Homo sapiens: one gene and its partners. The protein of the gene in region 2 interacts with the protein of the main gene of each other region in a biochemical or structural test. Each region holds a gene or a part of one and is shown on either strand. Other genes may lie near its edges. The genes, in order: ATAD3A, DNM1L and USP16.

Region 1 (11,210 bases), on a different chromosome or scaffold from region 2:
AGCTGGGATTACAGGCACCGACCACCACACCCGGCTAATTTTTGGATTTTTAGTAGAGACGGGTTCACCATGTTGGCCAGGCTGGTCTTGAACTCCTGACCTCAAGGGATCTACCTGCCTCGGCCTCCCAAAATGTTGAGATTACAGGCGTGAGCCACAGTGCCTGGTCCCTCACTTTCAGTCCTGAGTTCACAGGCGGGGTTCACATGTTGCCTGTTGTGGGCATTGTAGCTTAAAAATTTAATTGGCAAGGCCAGGTGCGGTGGCTCACACCTGTAATCTCAGCTCTTTGGGAGGCCGAGGTGGGCGAATCATCTGAGGTTGGGAGTTCGAGACCAGCCTGACCCAACATGGAGAAACCCCATCTCTACTAAAAATACAAAATTAGCCGGGCGTGGTGGCGGGCGCCTGTAATCCCAGCTACTCAGGAGGCTGAGGCAGGAGAATCACTTGAACCTGGGAGGCGGAGGTTGCGGTGAGCCGAGACCACGTCATTGCACTGAAGCCTCAGCAACAAGAGGGAAACTCTGTCTCAAAAACAAAAAAAAAAAGAGAGAACAGGAGTGTGGTCGACTGCTGGGCCTGCCATAACCACTGGGGCGTGTGTGCCCACAGCTCTGAAGACTACAGGCCCAAGGTCAGGGTGCCAGCTCAGTCCCTCCCTGTGGAGTGTTCTTTGCTGGGTCCTCATGTGGCGGAGAGAGTGACTGAGCTCTCACTCTGGTGTCCCTTACAAGGATGCTCATCCTGCACTGCTCACAGTGGTGGTGGTAAGCCACCGCGCCCAGTGCCAACTTTGTCCTTCAACAGTTTGTGTGTGTGTGTGTGTGTGTGCGCGCCAGGCACAGTTGTAGGATCCAGCTCCACAGGTTCGGTGGGTTTTCTCTTTGTGTGCAGAGACAAGAGAGTGTAGAAATAAAGACACAAGACAGAGATAAAAGACAGCTGGGCCCGGGGAACCACTGCCACCTAGACGTGGAGACCGGTAGTGGCCCCGAGTGCCAGGCTGCGCTGTTATTTATTGGATACAAGACAAAGGGGCAGGATAAGGAGTGTGAGCCATCTCCAGTGATAGGTAAGGTCACGTGGGTCACGTGTCCACTGGACGGGGGCCCTTCCCTGCCTGGCAGCCGAGGCAGAGAGAGGGAGGGAGGGAGAGAGAGAGACAGCTTACGCCATTATTTCTGCTTATCAGAGACTTTTAGTACTTTCACTAATTTTGCTACTGTTATCTAAAAGGCAAAGCCAGGTGTACAGGATGGAACGTGAAGGCGGACTAGGAGTGTGACCGCTGAAGCACAGCATCACAGGGAGACGGTTAGGCCTTCGGATAACTGTGGGCGGGCCTGACCCTCCACAAGAGGTGGAGGAGTAGAGTCTTCTCTAAACTCCCCCGGGGAAAGGGAGACTCCCCTTCCCAGTCTGCTAAGTAGCGGGTGTTTTCCCTTGACACTGACGCTACCGCTAGACCACGGTCTGCTTAGGTCACGGGTGCCTTCCCAGGCGCTGGCGTTACTGCTAGACCAAGGAGCCCTCTGGTGGCCCTGTCCGGGCGTAACGGAAGGCTCGCACTCTTGTCTTCCGGTCGCTTCTCACTATGTCCCTTCAGCTCCTATCTCGGTATGGCCTGGTTTTTCCTAGATTATGATTATAGAGCGAGGATTATTATAATATTGGAATAAAGAGCAATTGCTACAAACTAATGATGAATGATATTCATATATAATCATATCTAAGATCTATATCTGGTATAACTATTCCTATTTTATATATTTTATTACACTGGAACAGCTCGTGCCCTCGGTCTCTTGCCTCAGCACCTGGTTGGCTTGCCACCCACACACAGTGGCTCATGGCTGTAATCCCAGCACTTTGGGATGCCAAGGTGGGTGGAGCACCTGAGGTCAGGAGTTCGACACCAGCCTGGCCTAAATGGTGAAACGCTGTCTCTACTAAAAATACAAAAATCAGCCAGGCATGGTGGTGTGTGCCTGTAATCCTACCTACCTGGGAGGCTGAGAGGCAGGAGAATCACTTGAACCCAGGAGGTGGAGGTTGCAGTGATCTGAGATCGTGTCACTGTCTTGCAGCCTGGGTGACAGAGTGAGACTCCCTCGCAAAAAAATAAAATAAGTTTTTTTTTTCCCTTTGGCAATTCAAGATCCCTAGAGGTTCCATATCAACGTATTAATGCTTTTTCTATTTTTGTAAAAAATAATTCGGGTTTTACAGGGATTGCATCCAGTCTCTATATTGCCTTGACGTCTCTTAGCAATGTTGTCTGGTTTTCTTTTTTTTTTTTTCTTGAGATGGAGTCTCACTCTGTCACCCAGGCTGGAGTGCAGTCGTCGGCCAGGATGGTCCCAAACTCATGACGTCAGGTGATCTGTCTGCCTTGGCTCCCAAAGTGCTGGGATTACCGGCGTGGGCCACGGCGCCCGGCCAGTTTTCATTGTACAAGTCTTTCACCTTCTTGGTTAAGTGAATTTCCAAGTATTTTATTCTTTCAGATGCTATTGTAAATGGAAATGGTTTCATAATTTCCCTTTCAGATTATTCATTGTTAGTATGTAGAATTGCAGCTGTTTCTGCTGTTGATTTTGTTTCCTGTAACTTTGCTGATGTCACGGGGTTGTTTTTTCCAATATGGATTCTAGGATTTTCTTTTTTCTTTTTTTTTTTTTTTTTTGATATGGAGTCTCGCTCCGTCACCCAGGCTGGAGTGCAGTGGCACAATCTCGGCTCACTGCAAGCTCCGCCTCTTGGGTTCACGCCATTCTCCTGCCTCAGCCTCCTGAGTAGCTGGGAATACAGGCGCCTGCCACCATGCCCAGCTAATTTTTTGTATTTTTAGTAGAGATGAGGTTTCACTATATTAGCCAGGATGGTCTCGATCCCCTGACTTCGTGATCTGCCCGCTTCAGCCTCCCAAAGTGCTGGGATTACAGGCGTGAGCCACCGCCCGCGCCCAGCAGGATTCTAGGATTTTCTACATATAAGATTATATCATCTGAGAACAGGTGATTTTACCTCTCCCTTTTCAGTTTGGATGACTTCTTTTTCTTCTCTAATGGCCCTGGCCACAACTTCCAGTGGTATGTGGAATAGAAGCAGTAAAGCATTCTTGCCTGGTTCCTTACTCAGAGGAAAAGCTTCCAGTTTTTCACCACTGAGTATGTCACCTGTGGGCTTGTGATATATGGCCTTCATTATGTTTAGGGCGTGTGTTTCAATTCCTGGCTTGTTGAGTGTTTTTCTCATAAAAGGGTGTTGAATTTGGTCAAATGCTTTTCCTGCGTCAGTTGAGAGGGTCATGTGGTTTCCTTCTTCCACTCTGCTAATATTGATTGCTTTTTGTATGTTGAACATTTCGTATGTGGAACATGATTTTCGTATGAACTATCCTTGCATTCCAGGAATAAATCCTGCTTGGTCAGGGTGTATAATTTTTTTATTATACTGCTGAATTCACTTTGCTGGCATTTTGTTGAGGACTTTCCCAGTGATGCTCATCAAGGATATTGGCCTGTCATTTTTCTTGTGGCATCTTCATCTGGGTTTGATATCAGGGTACTGCTGGCTTCCTAGGATGAGTGAGGAAATGTTCTTCAATTTGTCCAGGAGTTTGAGGAGTGCTCTGATTCTTAATGTTTTGTGAATTCACATGTGAAGAAATCAGGTCCAGGTCTTCTCTTTCAACTTTTACAGCTTGGAGATTTTAGGTTCCCAGAAAAATTGCAAGGGTAGCACAGAGAGCTCCCGGGCCTGGGGCCTCGCCACGTGGTGAACGTCATGTGTCACTGTTGGCCCCACCCGCGACTGGGTCTTGCCCCAGAATCCCACCCAGGAGGCCACGTGACATTTAGCTGTCACTTCTGGTGGGCTCCTGCCAGGTCCCGTGCTTCCCAGAGGGGTGGCCCCGTGAGCATCTGCGTAGCCCCTTTCCTCTGCTGGGCCCTGGGTGAGGTGCAGCCACTCGGGTGGACCCTGAGGGTCCCTGCACCTGTTTGCCCTCTCTTGGGTGGGCTCAAGACCAAAAATGATGTTGAGCAGTCCTGGGCCCCTGAGCCACAGTGGCGGTACGGCTCCAGTCAGTGTCTCCTGCGCTCCTGGGCCCCTGACCCACAGTGGTGGTCCAGCTCCGGTCAGTGTCTCCCCACACAGTGGCTCTTGGCGAGGGATGGGCGCTGGCAGAGGGGACGGGCACCACGTGGTCATCCCCATGGCAGGTTCTATCGTGGCGACGGTGTTGTGGGAGGATGGTGTGCTGCTGCCCCTGCACCCCGTGAGATGAATCCTGCCTCTGGGAGGCATAGCTGGGATGGGGCTAGGGACCCGCTCAGCTGTCCGGGAAGGGTCCCCTGCCCTGTGCTTCCTCCAGGCGTCCTGGTGCCCTCCTGAGCACGGCGCCCAGTGGGGGTCCCCACACCCTGACCCTGACCCACGGGTGACTCCCTTTGGGGACTCCATGCCCTTTTCTGGCATTAGGATGGAGAGTGACCTGTCTGGCAGAAAGGCTGGACCTGAGGCTGCCTGAAGCGACACCGAGGGCCACAGCCCCAGCAGCTCCAGCCTTCACATGCTAGATGCCAAGCCCTGTGCCCAGGAGGACAGGAAGGTGGGGCAGGGGTGGCCTTGGTGCCACCAGCCACGTGCCTCAAGGTGGGCAGTGGCTGCCTCTGCCCTGGAGGCCTGTGAGGGTCAGGGTCTGAGGGTCTGAGGTGCACTATGACCCGGGGGCACTGCCTGGCCACGGCTGAGACACGCAGAGGGTCTGCAGTTCCCACCTGCCTCTCGGAAGCTGCCCTGGGTCGGCCGTCAGTGAGGCTCCGCCTTGGGCTTTCTATTATTAGAAAGTCATTGAGCAACAGCAGTGCTGAGGACGCAGGCAGGGCTGTGGGCACTGCAGGGGCTGCCCCCGGTGTCCACACACGTGCTGGGCTCTGCCGAGGTGCGGGAAGCCTGTGTTTCACGCTCAGGCCATCCTGGAGCCCCTGGTTTGGTCCCTCCCCACCTCGGGGCCCTGGCGTGCATTTGGGGTGGGGGGTTCCCATGGCGGCCTCCCTCAGCTCCCTCTCTCCCCACTAGGCCACGGCGTATGCCTCCGAGGACGGGGTCCTGACCGAGGCCATGATGGACACCCGCGTGCAAGATGCTGTCCAGCAGCACCAGCAGATGATGCGCTGGCTGAAGAGGGGGAGGCCTGGGCCCGAGGACGAGCAACCCTCATCCTGAGTCCATGGGGAGACCACACCTCACGGAGCCTGGCCGCGGACCCCTCCCACCCCTGCCTTTGCGGCCCCGCACATTTAGGAAATACTCCCCGTAATAAAGTCCCACGGGGGCCGCACCGCTGTGTCTATTGGCTGGGGCGGGGTTTGGGGCCCCCTAACGTCCCCCTGGGGTCAAAGGTGACAGAAAAGGCAGAAGCTGGGGCTTTCTGGAGGATTTAACCACAGAGGGGTGGGCTGCACAGGAGGTGCCTGCCACGGCAGGGCCGGGTGCCCGTGCCCCATCCTGAGGCCGTGCATACGCGGGTGCCCTTCGCCTCCCTCCCCTCCGCCAGAGCTGCCTGTGGCCAGACACACGGTGGAGGGAAGTGCACGCGAAACAGACACAGCGGCTTCAAATAGATGCCGCCCCTGCCCGCGCTTTGCAGCTAGTCCCTGCAAACCTTGATGATGGGGCTGGGCGCGGTGGCTCACGCCTGGAATCTCAGTGAGGCCAAGGAGAGTGGATCACCTGAGGTCAGGAGTTCCAGACCAGCCTGGCCAACATGGTGAAACCCCATCTCTCCTAAAAAAAAAAAAAAAAAAATTAGCCGGCCGTGGTGGCAAGTGCCTGAAATCCCAGGTACTCAGGAGGCTGAGGCAGGAGAATCACTTGAGCCTGGGAAGTGGAGGTTGCACTGAGCTGAGACCATGGAATTGCACTGCAGCATGGGCAACAAGAGTCAAACTCCCTCTAAAAAAAAAAAAAAAAAAAAAAAGGGCCAGGTGGCACATGCCGGTGGTCCCAGCTTCTTGGCTTGGAGGCTGAGGTAGGAGGATCGCCTGAGCATGGGAGGCAGAGGTTGCAGTGAGCTGAGATCGCACCATTGCACTCCAGCCTGGGTGACAGAGTGAGACCCTCTCAATAAATAAATAACCAAAACCTTGATTACAGCCATGGGGTGGGGGTGGGGGGACGTCTGGCTATTGCTGGGGAAGTCATTTGGTTTTTCTCCTCCTCTCCTATTTTTTTGGTACAGACGGGGTCTCTCTTTGTTGCCCAGGCTGGTCTCCAACTCCTGGGCTCAAGCAATCCTCCTGCCTCGGCCTCCCAAACTGGCGGGGTTACAGGCGTGAGCCACCGCGCCTGCCCTGTTTTCTTTTTCTTTTTTTTTTCTTTTCTTTTTTTTTTGGCGATGGAGTCGTGCTCGCCCAGGGTGGAGTGCAGTGGCCTGATCTCGGCTCACTTCAACCTCCACCTCCAGGGTTCAAGCAGTTTTCCCGCCTAAGCCTCCGGAGTAGCTGGGATTACAGGCGCACGCCACCATGCCCAGGTTAATTTTTGTATTTTTGACAGGGGTTTCACCATGTTGGCCCGGCTGGTCTCAAACTCCTGTTTTCAGGTGATCTGCCCACCTCGGCCTCCCAAAGTGCTGGGATTACGGGTGTGAGCCACCGCGCCTGGCCGGCATTTTCTGGCTTTTTTTTTTTTTTTTGACAGAGTCTGACTCAGTCGCCCAGACTGGAGTGCAGTGACGAGATCTCGGCAGCTCACTGTGTTATATGTAAATTTTCTGTGCCGCCAAAGAAGTAGAACTCGAATATAAATTTTTCTCAGCTAGATAATTTACTTCTATAGAAGGGGACATCTCATAGATGGAGCAATGGCGAGCGCTTGGACAAGGGAGGGGAAGGGGTTCTTATTCCTGACGCGGGTAGCCCCTACTGCTGTGTGGTTCCCCTATTGGCTAGGGTTAGAATGCACAGTCTAAACTAGTGCCCATTGGCTATTTTAAAGGGAGCAGGAGTATGGGCCAGAGTGGCGGGGTGAGTGGTTTGGCGGGAAAAATGGTTATGGGACAGGTAACTAAAGGTGACTCAGGTCAAAGCAGGAGACCGGGATTAGTTAGGACGGAGCAGGTGACCAGGGCAACAGATGTCAACTACTGACTAGAACTGGTGGAAAAGGTTGTTTACTGAAACTGCGAGGAAGGTAGACTTTAAAATGCAGGACAAAGACTGAACATACTGATATACTGATTCTTTGAAGGGAAGTTTAGAACTCATTGTATCTAACATTATTCAGGCTTAAAACAGTTTCCAATCCAGTGGGAAAAGTCACTCCATATATTCCGTGAAGTCAACCAGTTCCATCAAGGAGAAAGTCAGGGCCGCTGGGAGCGCGTGGACCGTGGGCTCCGGGGCGGCGCCTGCCCGGGCACCCCGGCCCCGTCCACGCCCCGCAAGAGGAGCTCGCTGGCCCCGCCACGCGGGAAGGGGTCGCCCCGGGGTCTTGGGCGGGAGGGCCGTGCGGGCTGCGGAGACACCGAGGAGGGGAGGCGCCTCTCCTGAGCTCTTGGCGCAGCGACCCCAGGGCGCCGACTCATCGCGGAAGGGCTCGGCTTGCCCGGGCGCCGGTGCCGCCTCGGGTGAGGTTCCCGCGAGACTCTTCTCTGCGTCCTGGACTCACCGCAGGGCGCCCCGCCGCACGGATCGAGAACCTTGGGGCTCCCTGGAAACTTGCCACCCGCTGCCGCCAAGGCCGGAACTCCTCGGAGCCCCTAGCAACGGAGCCCCTAGCAACGGAGCCCACGCGGATGCGGCGCGGGGCTGACGCTGCCTTGGGTTCGCCTACGTCCCTCGGGAATTTTGTCCCGGCGTGGCTCCCGTAGCCAGATGCTTCGCCGCTCCCGCCCCGCTGGCTCCCAAAGCCTGTTCGGCAGTCGCGGCGCCGTCGCTATGGCGTCACTGTCCTCGGGGCCAATCCAAGGGCTGCGCGCGTGTCCCTTACGCGCTTCTATCGCCGGGAGGAAGGGGTGTGTGTGGCGCCTGCGCAGTGGCGGTGACCACCGGCTCGCGGCGCGTGGAGGCTGCTCCCAGCCGCGCGCGAGTCAGACTCGGGTGGGGGTCCCGGCGGCGGTAGCGGCGGCGGCGGTGCGAGCATGTCGTGGCTCTTCGGCATTAACAAGGGCCCCAAGGGTGAAGGCGCGGGGCCGCCGCCGCCTTTGCCGCCCGCGCAGCCCGGGGCCGAGGGCGGCGGGGACCGCGGGTTGGGAGACCGGCCGGCGCCCAAGGACAAATGGAGCAACTTCGACCCCACCGGCCTGGAGCGCGCCGCCAAGGCGGCGCGCGAGCTGGAGCACTCGCGTGAGTGCGGCGGGGCGGGGCGGCGCGGGCGGGCGGGCGGGACGGGCCGGGGAAGCGGGAGCCCTGGCCCTTGCCGCTCCTCGCCGCTGTCGGCAGCCACTTCCCGGGCGAGACTGCGCCCCCGGAGCACCCCCGGCCGGAGCCGTGTCGCGTGCCGGGAGGATCGGACTCTTTCCGTCACCCGTTTGCACCTCTGCAGCTGTCAGGAGCGGGTCAGGTGCGGAAAGCGGTGCGGAGGTGGCGCTCATAGGTTACAGGGGTCAGGGTCTGGGGCTGGCCGTGGTCTTCAGTTACCGCCGAGCGTGCGGGATCCTTCTGCGCTTGCCGCCTCCACGTGGCACAGGCCAAGGCGTGGCCAGATGGGTAGATGGGTTTGTTGGGTGGTTGCTAGCAGTTTCCACGTAACAAGGGAAGCGTATTTGAGAGTTACTTGATTCTAACGAGACTAGCAGATTTGCACTTCTTGTTGGAAGACGTTAGCATTTGCACGGCGAGGTCTGTGAAGCCACAGGCCAGGCCGTGCTGCTCAGCTTGAGTAAACCCCTGACCCAAGGCCCTCAGGGTGTGAGCACTCACCATGTTGTTCAGGCTGGTCTTGAATTCTGGCCTCAGGTGATTCGCCCACCTCGGCCTCCCAAAGCGCTGGGATGACAGGCGTGAGCCGCTGCTCATGGCCTTCCTCGGTAATTTTAACCATCAGGTTAGGATGGGAATCAAGGGCTGGACTTCAGGGCACCTCGGAGGACAGCGGATGTTGGTGACTGACTTTCTTGCTGCAGGCTTATTTGGAGGGTTCCTTTGTGTCCTAGTTCCTGGGGGTTTTCACCCGCTAACTTCACTTAGAGATTGAAACTTCTCCCACTTCCAGAAGCTGAATCGTAGTGATCAGCCTGCGGCCCCCTGCAGTGGTACAGGCCTGGTTGAGCAGCCTCAGGCCGCCTCCCCATAGTGCAGACCTGTGCCTCTGAGTTGCTCCAGTCCTGGCGGCCCCGGAGCTCCTGACCCGCAGTCCGCTCTGCCGGCGTTGCCAGTGCCTTGGTCTGCCCTCTCTGTGGTGGAGCGGGGCCCGGGGCAGGGTCTCCAGGTGCACCGTGGGGAGCCCTCCATCAGGCTTTTGTTTCCTGTGGATTGTGTTCCAGGTGTGGGCTCTTTCATTCTGATCCCTTCCCTCCTTCCTGGCCTCACTGCTGGCAGGTGAGAGAGGTTTCTCCAGAGTTGACTGCCCCCTTTCCCCGGGTGCCCCCTGCCCTGCCCCTCTGCCTGGTAGCCCCTCTGCAAGCCCGGCCCCTCCCGACGCTCCTGGCTTCCTCCGTGCCCCTTTCCTGGCAGCGGGTCGCCGAGATTCGGCCGGAGCCCATTGCTTTGTCCTTGCTGCTCTCCAGGCAAACGGGCGGCTCCTCCTCACCGACTGCCTCCTCTGTCCCTTGAGGCTATAGCCCCATGCCGCCTGGTTCCCAGAGTGCCCTGACCCCTCCTCCGGCCTGTCCTTGGAAGTCACAGCAGTACATTATCCCAGAACTGTCTGTGAGCACCAGCGCTCGCCCTGCACTCCACAGAGGGGGTGCCTGGAGGAGAGCCTCGTGCCCTGTGGGTGTGAATTCACGCGCTGGGACGCACGTCCCTGGCACAGGGTCACACCAAAGTGGTGAATGATTGTTCTCACTCTAATAACCGAGAGGCCACACGGGCACCTGACCTGCTCTTTCCCCTCTCCTCCTCCCCAGAGTCACTGGGGGTAGGAACTGTCAATGAGCCATTTTCAGGGGAGGGAGTGGCCTCAGCTTAATCCAGCCAAAGGTCCCCTCGGGAGGAAACAGGCAGAGCTCCTCACCGTGACACCCACGTTCCTGTCACTGCTCTGTGGCAGGACCCTGGGTGACTGACACACCCTCAGTCCCCTCGGGGTCAGAGTGAGAGTGGTTGAGAGCCCGGGGTCGCTTCAGCCCTTGGCTTCCCGAGCTTAGCAGCCAAACCCGTTGACCTGGCACTGTCTTCCCTGAGAGGCAGGTCCCGGTCTCATCTGTGCTCTGTTCACTGGGGCCCCCGAGGTTAGCTACCAAGGCGCTTCCTGAAATCTGACACTGATGCCCGTCAGCCCAGTTCGTGCCTAACCACAGGCCCAAGCAGACCCACCCCAACACCAAAGCGTCGCTGCCTCTGTCTAAATGCAACGAGTGCTCCCCACGGCACTTCCCCCTGCGTCAGTCACCTCCAAAAATTACACCTGAGCTGAGAACAGACGCTGGGCTCTAGTTAGTGACGTGTTTGCTGCAGTTGACTCTGAAGGCTTAAAAAAGTGAGACGGGCTGCGGGAGGAAGAGAGACGGGAACAACGCACCAACCCAGGAGCATCGGGGGTCCCTGCCTACTTTACGTGTCTTTCTGTGTTAGCAGATTTATATGTTTATTTATTTATTTGAGATGGAGTTGCCGTCCGTCGCCCAGGCTGGAGTGCAGTGGTGCAACCTCGGTTCATCGCAACATCCACCTCCTGGGTTCAAGCAGTTCTCCAGCCTTGGCCTCCCAAGTAGCTGAGATCACAGGCGTGCACCACTGTGCCCTGCTCTTTTTTTGTCTTTTTAGTGGAGACAGGGTTTCGCCATGTTGGCCCGGATGGAGATTTTTCTTTTTTAAGTCTCTCTCTGTCTAGCTGGAGTGCAGCGGTGCGATCTGGGTTCACTGCAGCCTCTGTCTCCGGGGTTCAAGCCATCCTCCCACCTCAGCCTCAGAGTAGCTGGGATTACAGGCGTCCGCCACTGCGCCCAGCTAATTTTTGTATATTTAGTAGAGATGGGGTTTCACCACATTGGTCAGGCCGGTCTCTAACTCCTGGACTCAAGTGATCCACCCGTC
Region 2 (10,823 bases):
TAACCATGTTAAGTGAGAACCAGTGTTCATATAAAAAACTATATGCAAATGTCTACAGCAGCTTTATTCATAATTTTCAAAAACTAGAAACAACTCACATATTCCTCAGATGGGGAGTGAAACTAAAGTATGGTACATTCCATACAATGGGACACTACTCTGCAATAAAAAGGAATGGACTATTAATATACAAGAACACGGATGAATCTCAAATGCATTATGCTAAATGAAAGAAGCCAGACTCAAAAGGTTATGTACTATCTGATTTCGTTTATATAACACTCTAGAAAAGGCAAAACTAGGAATGGAAAACTGGTTTGATTGGTTAGCATAAGAAAATTTGGTGGGGGGGGGTGGCAATGTCTTGAGTTGGTTGTGACATATCTCTTGGCATTTGTCAAAACTCTTAGAACTGTACACCAAAAAAGAGTAAATATTTTTATTTTTTGTTTATTGAGACAGGGTCTCATTCTGTTGCCCAGGGTGGAGTGCAGTGGTGCAATCACGGCTCACTGCAGCCTTGACCTGGGCTCAGGTGATTCTCCCACCTCAGCCTCACCTGTAGCTAGGACTACCACACCCTGCTACGTTTTCTATTTTTTGTAGAGACAGAGTTTCACCACTTTGCCCAGACTGGTCTCGAACTCCTGGGCTCAAGCAATCTGTCTGCCTTGGCCTTCCAAAGTGTTAGGATTACAGGCATGGGCCATATCACCTGGATGTAAATTTTATACAGATTTTTGAAATGCTTACAAAATAGCCCTAAGAGTCAACAAAAAATTACATGTGAAAAAAATCTATTTTATATATATACTATATATAGAGTATATATACACTATATATAGTATATATATATATATATATATAGTAACTGAAAATACCATAGGTATTTCACTACCCATCTGAGAAATATGTGAGTTGTTTCTAGTTTTTGAAAATTATGAATAAAGCTGCTGTAGATATTTGCATATAGTTTTTTATATGAACACTGGTTCTCACTTAACATGGTTAAACACCTAGGAATGGGACTGCTAATTTAACTTTATAAGAAACTGCCAGACTGTTTCCCAAAATGACTACACCACTCCCACCAGCAACGTGTGAGAGTTCCAACTGCTCTGCATAGTGTACAATTTTACCTATGGTATTTTTCAGTTACAAATATATATACATAGGTATATATATATATTTTATATATATATTTTATATATTTATATATATTTTATATATATACCTATGTATATATATTTGTAACTGAAATATATATACTATAAAATATATATAGTATATACTATATATATTTATATATACTATAAAATATATAGTATATATTATATATATTTTATATATAGTATATATAGTATATATATACTATATATTATATATACACTATATATTTTATATATACTATATATTATATATACACTATATATTTTATATATACTATATATTATATATAGTATATATAATATATATACTATATATAATATATAGTATATATAATATATAATATATATTTTAAATATATACTATATATATTTTAAATATATACTATATATATTTTAAATATATAGTATATATATTATATATATATAGTATATATATATATTTTAGACGGAGTCCTGCTCTGCATAGTGTACAATTTTACCTATGGCATTTTTCAGTTACAAATATATATACCTAGGTAGATATATATATAAAAAATACATATACCTAGGTAGATATATATATAAAAAATACATATACCTAGGTAGATATATATATAAAAAATACATATACCTAGGTAGATATATATATAAAAAATACATATACCTAGGTAGATATATATATAAAAAATACATATACCTAGGTAGATATATATATAAAAAATATATATACCTAGGTAGATATATATATTTGTAACTGAAATATATATACTATAAAATATATATAGTATATACTATATATATTTTATAAATATACTATATATAGTATATACTATATATATTTATATATACTATATATAGTATATATATAAAATATAGTATATATTTTATATATATATAAAATATAGTATATATAGTATATATATTATATATAGTATATATAGTATGTATAGTATATATAATATATATAGTATATATATTATAAATATATACTATACATACTATATATACTATACATATTTTATATATATACTATACATATTTTATATATATACTATATATATTTTATATATAATATAGTATATATATTTTATATGTATAGTATATATATATATTTTAGATGGAGTCCTGCTCTGTCACCCAGGCCGAAGTGCAATGGCACGATCTCAGCTCACTGCAACCTCTGCCTCTCGGGTTCAAGCAATTCTCCTGCTTCAGCCTCCCGAGCAGCTGGGATTACAGGCGTCTGCCACTGTGCCTGGCTAATTTTTGTATTTTTAGTAGAGATGGGGTTTTACCATGTTAGTCAGGCTGGTCTCAAACTCCTGATCTCAGGTGATCCACCCGCCTTGGCCTTCCAAACTGCTAGAATTACAGGTGTGAGCCACCGTGCCCGGCAAAAATGTTTTAAAAAATTATACACAATGTTTAACATTATTTTTAAAAAAGCACTGGTAAGTAAGGCATTACCAAAATGATGACAGAGGTAATACTAAGTGGGATTGTAGATGAGGGTTTTCCTTTATTAACACTAAATAGTTGTATTTAATGGATCATTTTCTTTCTTTTCTTTGCCCTTTTTTCTTTTTGCATTTACCAGGTCGCAGAACCCTAGCTGTAATCACTAAACTTGATCTCATGGATGCGGGTACTGATGCCATGGATGTATTGATGGGAAGGGTTATTCCAGTCAAACTTGGAATAATTGGAGTAGTTAACAGGTTAGCAGTTAGAATGGGATAAGAATTGGGATAAGCATTCTTAGAATGGGATAAGCATTCTCACTTCAGAGCAAGTCTGAATTTCTAAAATCTGTTTGAAATGTGATGCTGTACTATATTTTTTCTCCCTTTTATTATGATCTTGGTATTGCTAAAGAATCCGTTGCCCTAAAGGGAGAAAAGAGAGAGAATTTTTTTTTTTTTTTGAAATAGGGTCTCTCTCTGTTGCCTAGGCTGGAATGCAGTGGCGTGATTGTGGCTCATTGTAGCATCAACCTCTGGGCTCAAGTGATCCTTTCACTTCAGCCTTTCAAGTAGCTGAGACTATAGGTGTGTATCACCACACCTGGCTAATTTTAAATTTTTTTGTAGTGACAAGGTCTTGCCATGTTGCCCAGGCTTGTCTCGACTTCCTGGGCTCAAGCAATCCTCCAACCTTGGTTTCCCAGGTGCTGGGATTACAGGCATGAGCCACTGTGCCTGCCCCATAGACATTTTTACTGGAAAATGTTTCTAAAGTAAGCAATACCACAAAATGGAAGAAATGTTGTAATAGCCAGGCTTTAAGAATTCTTGCCTATCATGTTAAGCTATGTATGAGGAGGTACTGGGTAAGGGAAAAATTATCTAATGTGCACCCAATCGAGAAAGAGTTTAAGGTGGCAGGATTTTAATAGATTGGTTTTAATCCCTGGCATTAGTGATGCTTCTGTGTAATTGCCAGGATGTGACTTGGAGAAATTGTATTAAAGGTATCCTAATTTATAAATAGTTGGTATTAAAAACTGGGAAAAGGAAACTAGTATTGAGTGTCTAATTAAAGGTGACAAGATTTTAATAGATTGGTTTAATCCCTAGCATTAGTGATTCTGTGTAATTGCCAGGATGTGACTTGGAGAAATTTTATTAAAGGTATCCTAATTATAAATAGTTGGTATTAAAAATCGGGAAAAGGAAATTATTATTGAGTGTCTAATTACGTTTTAGACACTCTACTGTGAGCAATTTGCAAATGGTATCTCTTGGAATCCTCACAGCATCCCCTGAGGTAGGTGTTGATGTCTATTTTATAATCAGAAACCTCAGGTTATACATTTAACCAAAAGTCACGTGGGTAGTGAAAGAGCTGGATTCGGATGAATATCTCTTTTAGTCCAAAGCCTTCATATGGTAGGAAACACTGAAATTATCATGAAATCTGAGTTATAGTCCTAGTTCTTACATAAACTAGATACAACGTAGGTTTAAATGACACCTAATGTCTTTGGGTCTCAAGCCTTTAGAAAATGAAAATGTTTTTACTGCCTGATACATAAGATCCATTCCAGTTGTCTGCTTCTATTTTAATGTCCTTCCATTCCAACCCTACTGTCATTCTCCCATCCCCACTGTCATTCTCCCATCCCCACTCCCAATTCCAGCTGTCTCCTTTTTCAGGTAAGGAGGTGGCCTAACACTGTTCGTTGTTTGTAGATGATTGTTCTTCAAGTTAACTTAATTATTTTTGGGAGAAATTAGTTCCCTGTCCATGGATAAAATATACAGTTGACTAAGATACTCTTATATTTTTATACCTGTCTATACCTGTTACTTATTGTTTTTGTCTATAGTTAATGGTAATAATGAGGCCTACTCTATTTAGGCACTAGTTACTTACAATTCACTTAGTTCAAGTCTTGGCTATGCCAGTTAGTGTGTGACCTGGGGTAAGTTAGTTTTTGTGAGCCTCAGTTCCTTGCTATACAATGGGGTAATAATACCTGCCACATAAAATTATTGTGAGAATTAAATAAAACAGTCCCTGTCAGGTATTAGAGAACAATGCCTGGTGCTGTCATCATCTAAGGTAGGAAGAGGACAACAGTTAAGCTGAATAGTTTCGTTATTTTTTCAACCTCAGGAGCCAGCTAGATATTAACAACAAGAAGAGTGTAACTGATTCAATCCGTGATGAGTATGCTTTTCTTCAAAAGAAATATCCATCTCTGGCCAATAGAAATGGAACAAAGTATCTTGCTAGGACTCTAAACAGGTAATTTTTTTACCTTTTGGAAATGAGATGTGTTTGTTTTTACCAATTGGTGTCTGAGAGGGTTCATTTTCAGTTCCTTACATTTTCATACTGTTCCTAACAGCTTCACTTATGGTTTCTTATATAGTAGGTTCCTGAAGAGTAGATGTCTCTGTTTTTATTGGGGTGGTTGACATTACATCATCACGTAGTCTAGAATGAATGTACAAGTGATTTTAAAATGTTTTAATTACGAAAATTTTGACAGTTAATTTAGTTTTGTGGCTAGAACTAGAGATGACTTCATTTCCACTTTGCATTTCAGGAACTGATTAAAATTTGTAATTTTCACATTATCTATTCTTACCTTAGAATGTGTTTTATTTACCAGGAAAGGGAGATGGAAAAACAAAGAAATAGAATGTCTTTTATTTCTATTCACTGTAGAAATAACTATACGTTGGATTCTGAATACCCACTGATGTGTGGGGACTAGAAGCCCTTTCTAGATGATTTATAAATGACTGAAGTGGAAGCCATTTTCTCTTACTTTTATCTTATTCCCTAAAGACTGATAGACTTGGATCTTAATAAGGTTGATTTTCACTTTGCTGGGTACCAATTGTAAATGACAAGTCAATGAAACCAAAATTATATAGGAAGAATTGATTGGGTGGCTTATTTTCTCTGTGGTAATTGCAGTAATATGAAAATAATTTGCATTTTTTCCTTGCTTTTATTATTTAGGAAAAACCAATCAAAATTGTTTTTTTCCTTTTCACACACAGTTAATCAGTATAGCACAGAATGCTTTTGAGAGCAGATATATGGGGAGTTTTCCCCATACATCAAGCAAGGAATTCTCCAGGGGATTCTAGCTGAATGTCCTTTAATTCAATGCTAACACTGTTTACCTGGAGATAGTGTCAGCGCCCACAGGTTGAGGGTTCAGTCCCACAAGACTGCCCCCAAGTCAGATGCCAGTTGTAAGCACAGGTTGTAGCCTGTGTTTCTGACTGACAGGCTATAAGTCAGGGTACCCATGATCCCCTTTTCATGTTTGATGAATTTGTTAGAGTGGCTCACAGAGGTCAGGGAAACACTACTTAGCATATACCCACTTACTGTAAAGCATATTACAAAGGATATAGATAAATAGCCAGATGAAGAGATGCACAGGGCTGGGCATGTGGGAAGGAATGTGGAGCTTCCGTGCCCTCTCTGGGCACACCACACTCCAGGAACCTTCATGTGTTCAACTCTCTGAAGACTCCATGAACTGTGTCCTTTTGAGTTTTTATGGAAGCTTCATTGGCCATTGGTGATCAGCTCAATGTTTGGCCTCTCTCCTCTCTTCTGAGGCTGTTCTGGTGACCAGCTCCCATCCTGAAGCTATCTAGGGACCCCCAGCCACCAGTCATCTCATTAGCATGCAGAGACACTCTAAACACCCTTAATGCTCTTGGAGAGTCCAAGGATTTTAGGAGCTGACTGCCAGGAAATGAAGACAAAGACCAAATATATATTTCACAGTATCACATTTGCCAGGACAAATTATTTGATAGGTTTTCCCCATTGTAAAAATTTGACTTGTTTAGGGCTTTAGAATACACAATTTTACTTTTAAATCCTTCCTTTCTAACCTTTTTTAGGTTACTGATGCATCACATCAGAGATTGTTTACCAGAGTTGAAAACAAGAATAAATGTTCTAGCTGCTCAGTATCAGTCTCTTCTAAATAGCTACGGTGAACCCGTGGATGATAAAAGTGCTACTTTACTCCAACTTATTACCAAATTTGCCACAGAATATTGTAACACTATTGAAGGAACTGCAAAATATATTGAAACTTCGGAGCTGTAAGTAAGAAATTTTTCTGTAGATTTGGTTACCTAGATTGCTAGGTCACTTTTCCTTTTGTGAAGATGACTTCAGCTCAGATTATCTGATTAAGATTTATTTTCTATAAAACAAAAATATAACTTTGTAGAGATAATAGGATGATGTCTGGTTGTGTGAAAATATGCTTTGTAAATGATATAAAGCAAAGTAAAATTGTCACATATTTTTAAATATTTTAATATTTTATAAGTATTTACTTATTTTTATAAGTATTTAATAAGTATTAAATATTTTAATAAGTATTTAAAAATAATTTAGCTTTTAAAGTGTTTGTTTCTTTAGTACACACAGTATAATTGCTCACAAAAATTAGAAAATGCAGATAAGTAAAAATAAAACATAAAAACAAAATTACATGTTGGTGTGCACCTGTAGTCCCAGCTACTCAGAAGGCTGAGGTAGGAGAATTCCTTGAGCTCAGGAGTTCAAGTCCAGCCTGGGCAACATATTGAAATTCCATCCTTTTTTTTTTTTAATTGAATCCAAATTTTATTAAGGATTTCAAGTTACATACTTCAGATTTCTAGAATGGAATGGAATAATTTTGGAACTGGAAAAATGGCATAAACACTGATATCCCTTGAAACTTCAATTTTATAAAGAAAATTCTTCTGCAAACCACATCCCCATTATATAACAAGACCAGGTATTATCGACACCTTCACTTTGGCAATAACTATTTCCTAAAAGAATGAAAAAGATTATTTTGCTACCTCAGTTCGTTAAAAATGGGATTCTGGCCAGGCACAGTGGCTCATGCCTGTAATCCCAGCACTTTGGGAGGCTGAGGCGGGTGAATCACCTGACATCAGTTCAAGACCAGCCTGGCTAACATGGTGAAACCCCATCTCTACTAAAAATACAAAAACTAGCCGGGCGTGGTGGTGGGCAGCTGTAATCCCAGCTACTTGGGAGGCTGAGGCAGGAGAATTGCTTGAACCCGTGAGGCGGAGGTTGTGGTGAGCCGAGATGGTGCCACTGCACTCCAGCCTGGGCAACAGAGCAAGACTCTGTCTCAAAAAAAAAAAAAAAAAAAAACAGGGATTCTATCTTTAAAGTTCAGAAAAAGCTGCATTTAGATGAACTACGGCTACCAAAACAAACAAAAAAACAGAGTGTCTAATCAAAGCAAAGGAAATGATTTTGAAAATAGAACAAAGCTATTATAATTGGTTAAGGATTTCCAGTAGTAAGTTAAAATCTCAGGAGAGGAATGGATAGCATTACAAACAATGTGTTCACATTCCAAGACCTGAACACTAACTTCTCAAAAAGGAAGTTTTCATCACCTCTAAAAATGAATTCAATGTAATTTTGTTAAGAGCAGGAAATCTAGACCTTCCTCTAATGACAATCCAATAGTCCACCCTCGCCATCGTCAAAAGAAAGTTGCCTCAAAATTAACAGTAATTAGCCTGAGGTATTGTAAATGTGGCACTACAGTCTGAAATTTAATGGCATCTTTTGTCAAAAATAGTCTTATCTCTACTTTAATCTCATGACTACAATACTATGTGCTATCCCTGTAGTATTTACTACTATGCAGTCATACAGAAAAAAATTGTTGGACCTTGTGAAATAGTGCATCCATCTACTTCTATAAAAATAGGAGCCACATTGGCCAGGCGCAGTGGCTCACGCCTGTAATCCCAGCACTTTGGGAGGCTGAGGCAGGCAGATTACGAGGTCGAGAGATCAAGACCATCCTGGCCAATATGGTGAAACCCCATCTCTACTAAAAATACAAAAATTAGCTGGGCGTGGTGGCACGTGCCTGTAATCCCAGCTACTTAGGAGGCTGAGGCAGGAGAATCGCTTGAACCCAGGTGGTGGAGGTTGCAGTGAGCTGAGATCGCACCACTGCACTCCAGCCTGGGCAACAGAGAGAGACTCTATCTCCAAAAAAAAAAAAAAAAAATATATATATATATATATATATATATAAATTATATTAATTAAATATAAATTAAATATTTAATATATATATAAAAAATAATAATATATATAATAATATATATAGAAGCCACACAAAGATCACTAACTGATAGTTTAGTTTGATAACTGTTTTCCAGTTTAGTTGTCAAAGCATGGTGTGAACAAAATGCTGAGTGTCAACACTGGCATTACAAATAGGCCCAAAATGTGAGCTTTTAATGAGAATGAGAAACATTTTATGAGATTTAACTGAATATGCCTTAACACATCCATGAGGTAGTTAAGTAAACAGTACTACACATTTTAATACATAGTAAACAGAAGCATGGGTAAGTGACATACTCATACTTCAAGCAATAAGAATTAGAAGAAACCACACAGAAGCTTGGGGCATTCTCTCTAGCTCTACCCCAAAGAAAATGAACTTTAATTTTTTTTTTTAAAGCATCGTATCACTGAAGATTTTCTTCTTCTTCTTCTTTTTTTTTACACTTGCTTATTAGTATAGTATCTCTTTCCAAAGCTGGTACCCTTTTCAATAATGTGGTAAAAACTGAGTATAACCCTTAATTCAAGCTAGGCCTCTCCTTCTACCTGAATTGGTACAAAATTAAGACATCTTGTAAGAACTAAAATTGTATTTGAAATTTTTATTTTAGGCTACAAAAACAAGCAAACAAACAACAAATAACTTGAAAACAGGTCTTGTCAAATGATGTAAGTTCATCCTTTCCAGGGAAGCAGAAGGTAGACCCTACCACAAAGAAAAGATGCTTAGTTAATGGAGGTTAAATTTAAAAGTACAGTGAAATTCAGGCTAACTTCTGAAAAATCCTGTTTTATTCACCTCACTGTGGTACCAGTAACTATACTGAGTCAGGTTACTTTACAGTTAACTATGTCACCTATAACACAATAATCCATTAACAATCTAATACAGTTATTGGGTGTGGTCATACTGGAAGTTCTTAAATTCTTAACCATATAGTTGTCTTGCCAATTTTTTTTTCTTTCAGATGAGTCTTGCTCAGCCACCCAGGTTGGAGTGCAGTGGCACGATCTCAGCTCACTGCAACCACCGTCTCCCGGGTTCAAGTGATTCTCCCATCTCAGCCTCCTGAGTAGCTGGGATTACAGGCACCCGCCATCATGCCTGGCTAATTTTTGTGTTTTAGTAGAGACGGGGTTTCACCATGTTGGTCAGGCTGGTGTTGAACTCCTGACCTCAGGTGATCTGCCTGCCTCAGCCTCCCAAAGTGCTAGGATTGCAGGCGTGAGCCACCGCGACTGGCATGCCGGTTTTTTTTTTTTTTTTAAACGATGGATTGTCTTAGTACAAGTCCCTGCATTTCTGTAACAAAGTAATGAAAGGCACAGCTAATCCAAGCAGACTTAACCCTATTCAACAAACAGCTGAAAAAATACTTTGGTTCTTCAAGGAAAAAATTACGAAAAAAAAAAGTGTTTCCTTTAACAGTTGTTAATTTTCATAGCTGTACTCCAAGAGCTATATAAATATTCCAGAAGAACCAAATTATGTAGCAGCGAATGAACATGTGTGACAGAATTTGTGCATTCAACATACCTGGCAGAAAAACTAGTGAAAATGCTAGGTAGAACAGATTGGTCTTTAAAATATCAGTTTCCTGTCCTTTAAAACAAAAATTACCCAGTCTACCAAGAAAATACAAAAACATAAGGCAGTAAGTAAGAATTGTGTTTAGGCTAGGACAGTGCAGGTTATCCTCAAGGCCACATATATCCTGCTTCACTGCTGCTTGCACTCTGCTGGGTTTTGATCCTTCTTCGGGTCATAGTCTGGATCATTTTCCTCATCTCCTTTGTCCTCTTCCTCATCTGCTTCTTCACCTTCTTCATCATACTCATCATCATCATCTTCAGTAGCTTCTCCAGTAAACTATAACACTGATCTTGGGATTGTATGCTCACGTAAAAAGTGACCAATTTTGAAGTCTGCAGCAAGGATAGCTTCAGCATCATCATCCAGATCTCCACTCTCAGGAACTTCAGGAGGGGCAAGAAAATTAAAGAAAGAGTCATTGGAAACTGTTTTAGTCACAATACGAATTGTCCCATGTCCCTAGTGTT
Region 3 (10,823 bases), on a different chromosome or scaffold from region 2:
CGTTCTCACAAAGTTTCTGTGAGGTGGATACTGTGATTTTTTCCTATTCCATAGATTGAGAATCTAGGCTGTAGAGAAGTTCAGTACCTAGTTTAAGGTCCCCCAGAAATAATGGAGCTGGGCTTTAAGCACTGGAGTCAGACCCTGTGGCTGTCATGTAATCATTGTGCTTGTAGGACAAGCTATTTCAGTTTCTTCTCAAAGGTGGTGGGCATGTTCTGAAAACCTTTGGCTTGAAGAGGTTTAAGATCTTGAAATGATAAGATAATACCTTTATTCAATGGTTAGTGATTGCTTTGTGACATAATTCCTTTTTAGCTCCTTGAATTAAGTTTGAAAATGTGATTTTGGAATTATTTAGTAAATATGGGGAGCTGTATCCTGATCACTTTCTTGACTTGATTACATATTTCTAAGGAAAATAAAATTTAAAATTTAATAGTATATATATATCCATTTTATTACTTTTAGAGAGTGAGTAAAGGAATACTTAAAGCATTTGGTAATTCTACTGAAAAGTTGGATGAAGAACTAAAAAATAAAGTTAAAGGTAATGTCTGACTTTTTGAACTAAAACACTATAGTTGAATTCCTCTGTACCTTAGGACAAGATTGCTGGCACATATATTTCCAAGTCCACAATTATTAATGTATAATTTCTCTTTATCAACGTTGATTAGTAAAAATTATTCAGTGCTCCAGAAGTGAACAGTTTTACCCCATGGTGTATTCTTTTTATGTATTAAAGATAGAACTATGATGAATTACAGTTTTACTTTTCAAAAGCTTAAAATTATAATTAGCAGTAATACATGAATTATATTTGTTACTGTGAGTTGTCAGTAGTTGGTTTATTAATCATGGAGCCAACTTAGTTCTTATTATGTGGCGTGTAAAGATTTAGGGCAGATCTGCCCAGTAGAACTTCCTATGTTGATGGAACTCCTCTATACCTTTGCTGTTCCATATAGAAGCAACTAGGCACGTGTGGCGCCTGAAATGTGACTGGTGAAACTGAGGAACTACATTTTTATTTTTATTTAATTGTAATTAAATTTAAATAGCCGTAAGTGACTAAGGGCACTGTATTATAAAGCACAGATTTGAATCAACTCATAGCAACTCTTTGCCTCCTTGGTGCCCTTTAGAGCCTGGCCAGTAATGGAGAGAATTACCCCTGCTGGCATTTTCTGTCAGAAAAGTGTGGTTCTGCATAAATTATCATTTGAATAATGCTTATAGGTTTCACGTATTTGGAAAATTGGCTGATCAAGTAGTAAAATTATGGCTTTTAGTTATATTAAACTTATCAAGATTATTTCTGGGAGCATAGGAAAATAAAAGGAAGATTTTGTTTGAAATATTTTCCTGAGGTTTTTCTTTTGTTTTTAAAATATCAAAGGAGTTCAGTCTTAGAGTTCACAAAACAAGTTACATGCATTTTCTCTCCCAGTTTGCTACTCTGGTATCTTTTATCAGTCTTGAATGTTAGAATGTTAGAGCTAGAACTAAGGAACTAGGCTGTCATTCAGCCTACTCTGAGCTGTTCATTTTATACTAATGGAGAGAGAGAGAAAGACATAGAAGTCTCACTGACTTGCACAGTTTACTTCCCACTGACTAGATCTTGGATAAGGACTTTTTTGTCTTATTCATAAAAGGCGATTGTGTTCAATTATGTTATGCTCAGAGGTGGAATATATAATACTGACTTCTATTGCTTAAAAAAGGTGATTATGAATGGAGGAAGAAGTCTGTGGGACAGGAAATTTAAAATAAAATTTTAGAGTTAGATAGGTAAGTAGTTTTAGCTTTTCTTGTTTAATTAATTATATAACGGTAATTGGTAATTGATAGACTTTTTTTTCTCCATAGATTATGAGAAGAAAAAATCAATGCCAAGTTTTGTTGACCGCATCTTTGGTGGTGAACTAACTAGTATGATCATGTGTGATCAATGCAGAACTGTAAGTAGATGTCATGTATACTGGGTTTATTTGCTAATATTCAACAGTTTATCAATTGTTTATTTCAAAAGCAGAAATCTCTACCTTCATAGGATATCTTTTTAAACTATTCAGATGCTATTCAGATGTGCATGGTTCTTTGTGGGAAATGTCAGCACTCCTTAAATCTTGAAGACGTTAAACAGTTTGATTTATTTCCCCCAACCCAAAGTCCTCAATGTTGTGTAATTTTTCATTTCAAATTTTCTTAAGCCTTTGTTTATTTTAAAACCCATCCCCTACTCCCCATCCCACAGGGCAGGGAGGATCTTACTATGTAACATTTACAGTATTTACATTTTTACACTGTCTTTTCTGATTGGTTAAGGTCTCCTTGGTTCATGAATCTTTCCTTGATTTGTCCCTCCCAGTTTTAGATGATCAGGTAAGACTATTGAATTTATTTTATTCAAGTAGATTTTTTTTCCTGTAAGATTTTGTGGGGGGAAGCCTTGTTACTCTTTTTAAGTTTGTATATTACTAGCCCATGCAGAAATTTTTCTTAATTTGAGGTAGAATGCATTTTAGGATTTGAATAAAGAACAGGGTAACTACTTTAAAAACAAGGATGGAAAAAAAGATGATGTATTCAGAATTCTGTACAAGTAATTAGTTTGATTGGTTTCCATACAGTGAAGTATTTTCCTTATATTAAAATTAATACTTATTTTTGTTATTTAAGACTAATCACGAATCCCTTGCACACCTAAGTTCATAAATGTTAAAGAGTATTATTTTGTTTTAATTTGGTTCCTTTTAAATAGTAGTAGGAAAAAAGAAGAGATGTTATGAGTATTGGATAAATCATTCTTCAACTTCATATGAATTATGAGACCCTTGGCTTGTTAACTTGGCAATTAAAGTCTCACCAAATTTTATTTTCTGTTTTTCTGAAACTGTCATATGCATGCAAAGAAAGAAAAGAATAAAAAAGAATACACCGTGGTGACTTACATAAGTCACTTAGAAAATGTATTTGGAAATGGACGTATTTACAGTGTGACACAGCATGTATCTAATAAATTTCGTTATATTTCTATTACACTTACATGTGATGTTGCCTTTTGCTGTTTTGTTGGTTTGCTTGTTTTCTCATTATGTGAAGATTGCTTTCTAGTGTATGAGATAAACGAATTTTGTCTCATCTATTTTCAAATATTGTGGAAAAAAAAAGCTAATACATAATAGAAGTAGAAAAATATTTACATAGTGTGGATTTTTTTTCACCAAATGGTAGTTGTAAAATTTTGTTTTTGACCTATGTTATCTATATTTTAAGAGTGGTAAGAAAAGTGTAAATGATAAAAATCTGAAAAAGACAGTGGAGGATGAAGATCAAGATAGTGAGGAAGAAAAAGATAACGACAGTTACATAAAAGAGAGAAGTGATATTCCTTCTGGAACAAGTAAGCACTTACAGAAAAAAGCAAAGAAACAAGCCAAAAAGCAAGCCAAGGTGGGTAATTAGGAGGAAAATCATATGCTTGTAATTTTATATTTTGAGCTATTGAGTTTGTAGTCTGAATGACATTGGTTAGACATGTCTGTTATTTTAGATACAGCACTTTCATTTGACAATTACAGAATTTAGCTCATTTAGTATTCTCTGCAGGGAAATTGCTTTGAGTATATGTGAAGAAAACGTCGTGCTTCTTTTTTTTTAAATCCTGCATTGCTTGTAACAAGTATTTGTAGTAAGTTTAATTAACTTAATTTTCGAGTTAATATTATTGACATCCACAAATTTAAAAATATATAAAGGTAAACAATAAGTCCCCCTCCCACCACTGTTTTTTTTTTCCAACCCGAGATGGAGTCTTGCTGTGTCGCCCAGGCCAGAGTGCAGTGGCACGATCTCTGCTCACTGCAACCTCCATCTCCTAGGTTCAAGCAATTCTCGTGCCTCAGCCTCCTGAGCAGTCAGGACTACAGGTGCATGCCACCAAGCCTAGCTAATTTTTATATTTTTAGTAGAGACAGGGTTTCACCATTGTTGGCCAGGCTGGTCTCAAACTCCTGACCTCAAGTGATCCTCCCTCCTCAGCCTGCCAAAGTGCTGGGATTACAGGCATGAGCCACCGCGCCCGGCCGACCACCACTTTCCTTTTATGACAAAGATAAACATTTTTGTTTTTTCTTACGTATCCTTCTGGAGTTTCTTTTGGAAAATATGAGCAAATACAAATATGCAGTCTTGGTTTTTTTCCCCCTTTCTCACCATTCACACCATTCTGGATTGTGTTGTTTGTTTATACTTAGATTCTTGGAGTCCTTTCCATTTTAGTATATAAAACTTCTTCATTCTTTTTTTTTTTTTTTTTGAGATGGTGTCTCACTCTGTCGCCCAGGCTGGAGTGCAAATGGCGAGATCTTGGCACACTGCAACCTCTGCCTCCCAGGTTCAAGTGATTCTCCTGCCACAGCCTCCCAAGTAGCTGGGATTACAGGCATGTGCCACCGTACCTGGCTAACTTTTGTATTTTTAGTAAAGACAGGTTTCGCCATGTTGGTCAGGCTGGTCTCTAACTCCTGACCTCAGATAATCTGCCCACCTCAGCCTACCAAAGTGCTGGGATTACAGATGTGAGACACCGTGCCTGGCCCATTCTTTCTTTCTTTCTTTCTTTCTTTTTTTTAACAGTTGCATGATTCTGTGTTATGGATGTGCCATAATTCATTTAACCATTTCTCTATTGATTTAGGTTGTTTCTAGTATTTTGCTATAATGGTGAGTGCTCTAGTGAATAACCCTACACATAAGTCATCTGTAGGGTAAATTTTGAGAAGAGGGATTGCATTTGTAGTTTTGGTTGATACTAATTGTCCTTCACAAAGGTTGCTCCTGACCCTTGACAGCTGTGTGTTATCAAACTTCCAGATTTTGATTGGTATGTTAGATGGAAAATATTATCTCAGTGCAGTTTTATTTTACATTTATTTTAATATAAATTAGATTAAGCATATTTTTATGTTTCAGAGCCATTTGCATTTCATGTTCTTTGAAGTTTTTGCTTATATTCTTTTCTTATTTTTTATTCATGTGTTCCTCTGTTTTTACGGAAACACATCAGAAAATGTTTGGTTCCCATCCTGTTTGCTGCCCTTCATTCTTCTGGTATTACAGAGTAGCCTCACAGGGGCTGTTCTTTCAGTTCTTTCTGTTACAACCAGAAATGCCTTTGGGTTTTTAGGCATTTCAGTAACAGGAATCTTGATGAAATGCCTTCTTTTCCTCTATTTGGAAGTAGGTTGCAAGTGGCAAGAGTGATTTTAAAGGGAAAAGTTCTTTACTCTCTTCTGTATGTGTGGCTACCTTGCTTCTTTGCTAACTTCAGGCCATTTTTTTCCCAGAATACTTTTGTCCATTCCTCTGACCAAAGCAGTCCTGTACTTGTGCATCCTTGAGTTTTCTTTCAGTTTGTTTTTTTTTTTCTCTCAGTGAAACCTTGACCCAGTAACTCATATGGATACATTTCTTTCTGTTAGTGTGGAGTCAGACCCACCGTGTGGTATAACATTTGACTGCCTGGGTTTAACAGTCTTAGTACTCTGCCTGGATTACTTCCCTTAGCACAGAGACCATGTCTTGCATATTTTTATTTCTACAGTAGGGTGGTTTTTTGATGGTTGGTGATGGTTTATTCCTGATTTCATTTAAATAACTTTTTCTTTCTTTTTTTTGGGAACAGAGTCACTTTGTTGCCCAGGCTGGAGTGCAGTGGTGTGGTCTCGGCTCACTGCAACCCCCACCTTCCATGTTCAAGCTATTTTCCTGCCTCAGCCTCCCGAGTAGCTGGGATTACAGGCGCGCACCACCCATGTGTGCATTACAGGCACGCCTGGCTAATTTTTGTATTTTTAGTAGAGATGGGTTTTCACCATGTTGGCCAGGCTGGTTTCAAACTCCTCACCTCAAGTGAGATGCCCTCCTTGGCCTCCCAAAGTGCTGGGGTTACAGGTGTGAGCCACCACACCTGGCCTAAATAACTTTTCTTCATAATTTATTTTTTGAGACAGAGTCTTGCTCTGCCACCCAGTTTGGAGTATAGTGTGCATGATCATACCTCACAGTAACCTTGAACTTTTGGGCTCAAGTGATCCTCCCACCTCAACCTGCTGAATAGCTGGGACTACAGGTGGACACCAACGTGCCCAGCTAATTTTTATTTTTATTTTTTTTTAGAGATGGGGTCTCAGTATGTTGCCCAAGCATGTCCCAAACTCCTCAAGTGATCCTCTTGTGATCATCTTGCTTTGGCCTTCCACAGTGCTAGGATTACAGGTGTGAGCCGCCATGCCCAGCCAATTTCGTCATAATTTTTTTGATCCTTGATAGCAAAGGAACTTTTTAGGATCAGATTGTGAGAGTGAACTCTTCCTTAGGAAATTATTTTTGATTGACAAGCAGCAAAACTGGATATAGTACATGTGTGTGTTTTGTCCTTCTTCCTCTATCTCTCTTCCTCCTTTTCTCCCGCTCTTTCTTTTTCTTTATTTTTTGATGCCGTATACTTTTTACCCAGAACCAACGAAGACAACAAAAAATTCAAGGAAAAGTTCTTCATTTAAATGATATTTGTACTATTGACCATCCTGAAGACAGTGAATATGAAGCTGAAATGTCACTTCAAGGAGAAGTAAATATTAAATCCAACCATATTTCACAAGAGGGTGTTATGCATAAAGAATATTGTGTCAACCAGAAAGATTTGAATGGCCAAGCAAAAATGATCGAAAGTGTAACTGACAATCAAAAATCCACAGAGGAAGTAGATATGAAAAATATCAACATGGATAATGATCTGGAGGTTTTAACATCTTCTCCCACTAGGAATTTAAATGGTGCCTACCTAACGGAAGGGAGCAATGGAGAAGTGGACATTTCCAATGGTTTCAAAAACCTAAATTTGAATGCTGCTCTTCATCCTGATGAAATAAATATAGAGATTCTGAATGATAGTCATACTCCTGGAACAAAGGTGTATGAGGTTGTAAATGAAGATCCAGAAACTGCTTTCTGTACTCTTGCAAACAGGGAAGTTTTCAATACTGATGAGTGTTCAATCCAACATTGTTTATATCAGTTCACCCGTAATGAGAAACTTCGAGATGCGAATAAACTGCTTTGTGAAGTATGCACACGGAGACAGTGTAATGGACCAAAGGCAAATATAAAAGGTATTTTAATGCTCTCACTGTAAGTAAAATTAATATTCAGGGGCACATTTTGCACTGCATAGGTAGAGTACTCCTAATTGTATCAGGATTTGGATGGCATGAATAAGTGTCCTTTTCTGTGTAAATATTTTAATAGGATGGAAAAGTAGGACTTTATTGAAGTGGCTAATACACTGTGACATCCCAGCAGCAGTTAAATGGGACAGTTTTCTCCCTGACATCTCTCCCTGTGGGTAAATTATCCCCTTGGAATGCAGTCACCACAGCATCCTGACACATAGTGGCTATTTTTTTCCACCCTTACCTCCTTTGCACCCAGGACGCCACACTTGAATTTATCAGTGAACTAATATGACATGCCCAGTGCAAAGCACTGGGAAGACAGTGCTTTCTTACAGTCTTCCTCAAATGGGAGAAAGGATCATACTGACAATTTCCCTTATCTCCCCATTGCTTTTTTTTTTGAGTTTGGGTAAATAGGATGTGGAGGGGCCATGGATTCCTAAGGATTTTTAGTAGAATTGTTGAAACATTTTAAAATTCTAAGTAGAATTTTATTTATTTACATATAGAGACAAAAAGTAAGCCTGTGTGTGTGTGTATGTATCTTATATGTGTGTGTATGTATATATATATATGTGTGTGTATGTATATATATATAAGCTCAGAGACTATACAAAAATAGGCTTACTTTTTGTCTGTATATATATCAGCTCAGAGACGATACGTGTGTGTGTGTGTGTGTGTGTGTGTGTGTGTGTGTGTGTGTGTGTGTGTTTTGAGACAGAGTCCTGCCCTTTCTCCCAGGCTAAAGTGCAGTGGCCAATTTCAGCTCACTGCAATCTCCACCTCCCGGGTTCAAGAGATTCTCCTGCCTCAGCCTCCCAAGTAGCTGGGACTACAGGCACCCGCCACCACACCTGGCTAATTTTTGTATTTTTAATAGAGATAGGGTTTCGCCACGTTGGCCAGGGTGGTCTCAAACTCCTAACCTCAAGTGATTTGCCCGCCTAGGCCTCCCAAAGTCCTGGGATTACAGCGTGAGCCATCGCACCCAGCCTAAAAAATATTTTTTATAGATGAGCATTTGCAAATGATTTGATGTGATGGAATATACTAAACTTTCAACCTCATTAACCAAAATATTGTGTCTCTCCACAGTAATTCAATTTTGCTCTGATTGTAATCATTCTCAGTTATTACTGTATTTTGATTTCATCAGTAAGAATTTATGGACATTTTAATCTCATAAATACCTATAAAATATCTTTGATTTTGCCTCTTACTCCACAAATTCTACAATATTTGTTATCTAGTACTTCATAGAAAAAGTTTACTGATCCTTGCTTTAGATGTTTGGAATGATTTTATAGCAAATCTGAATGCTTTAGGGGTCTAAAATGATTTTCTCCCTGTTAAAAATTTCTTCTTTTCTTTAGGTGAAAGGAAGCATGTTTACACCAATGCCAAAAAGCAGATGCTAATTTCTCTTGCTCCTCCTGTTCTTACTCTTCATTTAAAGAGATTTCAGCAGGTACTCCTTGTTACCCAAAATTTGTTTTAAATATGTAACACCTACTTTATTACCTATTTTTTTCATTACTGTCTCAACATACTACTTTGTTTCTTTGGTTTTCTGTTGTTTCTTAACTGTAATGTCAATGAAGTCAGAAAGGGAAAAACATAGGGGCTAGGCAGAGGCGCATGTGAAGATGGAGGCACAATCTCCTCAGATTTCCTAGAACTCATTTATGTCCCTCTTTTTAGTACGATTGGCATCTTACTTTTATTTCAGGTTAAAAAAAGAAAAAGACTGGTGTGTTACATATATCTCATGCTTAGGAATATTAGTGATTTTTTCTGTTTTGTGTGTGGCATCTTGTTTTTACGGACCCTTGATAAAAAGACATTGGTGCCTTGGATTGTCATCATTTTGGTGACCTCATCTTTTCTGGAAAACTTTTGCTATAGCTGTATAACTTCTAAACTGTGTTGCAAATTCCGAAAGTACTTTCAGTATCTTCAGAACGTTTTGCCTCTTGTGGTTGGTATGGGCTTGACTAATTGGGTGGGCCTTTATTAACAATTCACTAAGCTTGGTTTGAGCATGAGGCTGAGAGCGTGTGTTTCACAGAAAAGTATTATGCTATCGCTGAGTTTTAAGCACTCAGAACCTGTGGTCTAATCTGGCATTTCTGGATGGCTGAAGCAGAAACATTGAGAATTTTCTCACGAGAAAAGTTGTTTTTCTTCTTTTTGAAACAGTCTTGTTCTGTCACCCAGGCTGGTGTGCAATGACACGATCATGGCTCACTGAAGGTTTGACCTCCCAGTCTCAAGCGATCCTCCCACCTTAGCCTCTATAGTAGCTGGGACTATAGGTGGCTACCACCATGTCCAGCTAATTTTTTAATTTTTTTGTAGAGACAGAGTCTCACAGTGTTGCCCAGGCTGATCTCGAACTCCTGGGCTCAAGTGATCCTCCTGCCTCAGCTTCCCAAAGTGCTGAGATTACAGGCATGTGCCATCGTGTCCAGCTGGGAATAGCTTTCTTAATGTGTTGGTGTGTGTTTTTTGTGTGATACATGTGTACTTAGCAAAAGCAAACCAACTTGGAATCAGTTAGTGTTCAGGAAGAATTGAGTCTCCAAAGAAAATTGAACTAGGACTTAATGTTGATATTCTTTTGGACGTCGGAGGGGACTTCGGTTTACTTAACCTGTATTGCTTTTCCAAGAAAAGAAGTCAATCTGTTATGCTTCTCTTTTAGGCTGGTTTTAACCTACGCAAAGTTAACAAACACATAAAGTTTCCGGAAATCTTAGATTTGGCTCCTTTTTGCACCCTTAAATGTAAGGTAAGTCAAAGTGGTCTTTTTCAGGAAAGTCCTTTAAAGTCAAATTGTGGCTTACCTAATGCTCCAGTAGCAACTCACTTAAGTATGAAGTTGATAACACTTATTGAGTAGAGTGGGTCTTTGATCATTGTACCTTTATAATTTGAAGATTAGTGATGAATCATTTTGAAGAATGGGTTATTTCAGTTCAACGTTTGGAATCCCCTTTATTATGGCATACATTGTCTTGTGAGCGGAGGGCATAAAACTAAAGGTGAGCAGATCTATTAATGAATAATCTGTTTAATGTGGTTGAATGTTAAGGCTGGTGAACATAGGTCAGGAGTGGTATACACTTAACCCAGCATGTTGGTGGTTCAGGAATGGCTTTGTAAAGTAAACCATGCCTCAACTATATTTAAAGAAGGAGTAAAAGTATGATGAATCAAGATGAAATGAGTTTTGCAGGCAGAAGGAACAGCAGGAGTAAAAACAGCAGTGTAAAATAGGATGGTGATTGCCAGAGACTGGTAACGTATGTAGTTCTAGAGTTTATAGTACAAGGTTATAGGGAGAGTTGAGAAATGAAGCCAGAGAAGTGAGATAGGAATGAAGTTTTGGAGGGTTCTCATGGTGAGGAACTTGGACTTCATTAGGTATACAGTGGGGAGCCCTGAGGAGTTTAAAGCACTGGGGTGGCATGGTCAGATCTTCATATGACGTAGGTTACTTGTTGATGTATGAAGGCTGAATTTTAGGACGGAAAGACTAGAGGTGGGGAAGTGAGTTTGGAGGCTGTTGTA

What was found.
Region 1: the proteins of DNM1L (region 2) and ATAD3A form a complex in vitro, tested with the Homo sapiens proteins (one study listed by IntAct).
Region 3: the proteins of DNM1L (region 2) and USP16 form a complex in vitro, tested with the Homo sapiens proteins (one study listed by BioGRID).

Annotation. Positions count from the first base shown.
Region 1 is NC_000001.11:1,504,117-1,515,326, forward strand, and holds the start of ATAD3A (ATPase family AAA domain-containing protein 3A), read left to right. Parts: upstream 1-8,045; 5' UTR 8,046-8,152; coding exon 8,153-8,357; intron 8,358-8,413; exon of another isoform or gene 8,414-8,574; intron 8,575-11,210. UniProt on the Homo sapiens protein: Essential for mitochondrial network organization, mitochondrial metabolism and cell growth at organism and cellular level. May play an important role in mitochondrial protein synthesis. May also participate in mitochondrial DNA replication.
Region 2 is NC_000012.12:32,715,898-32,726,720, forward strand, and holds part of DNM1L (dynamin-1-like protein), read left to right. Parts: intron 1-2,745; coding exon 2,746-2,866; intron 2,867-4,766; coding exon 4,767-4,898; intron 4,899-6,529; coding exon 6,530-6,736; intron 6,737-10,507; exon of another isoform or gene 10,508-10,823. UniProt on the Homo sapiens protein: Functions in mitochondrial and peroxisomal division.
Region 3 is NC_000021.9:29,040,138-29,050,960, forward strand, and holds part of USP16 (ubiquitin carboxyl-terminal hydrolase 16), read left to right. Parts: intron 1-471; coding exon 472-550; intron 551-1,875; coding exon 1,876-1,967; intron 1,968-2,334; coding exon 2,335-2,391; intron 2,392-3,285; coding exon 3,286-3,462; intron 3,463-6,529; coding exon 6,530-7,184; intron 7,185-8,623; coding exon 8,624-8,718; intron 8,719-9,954; coding exon 9,955-10,041; intron 10,042-10,823. UniProt on the Homo sapiens protein: Specifically deubiquitinates 'Lys-120' of histone H2A (H2AK119Ub), a specific tag for epigenetic transcriptional repression, thereby acting as a coactivator.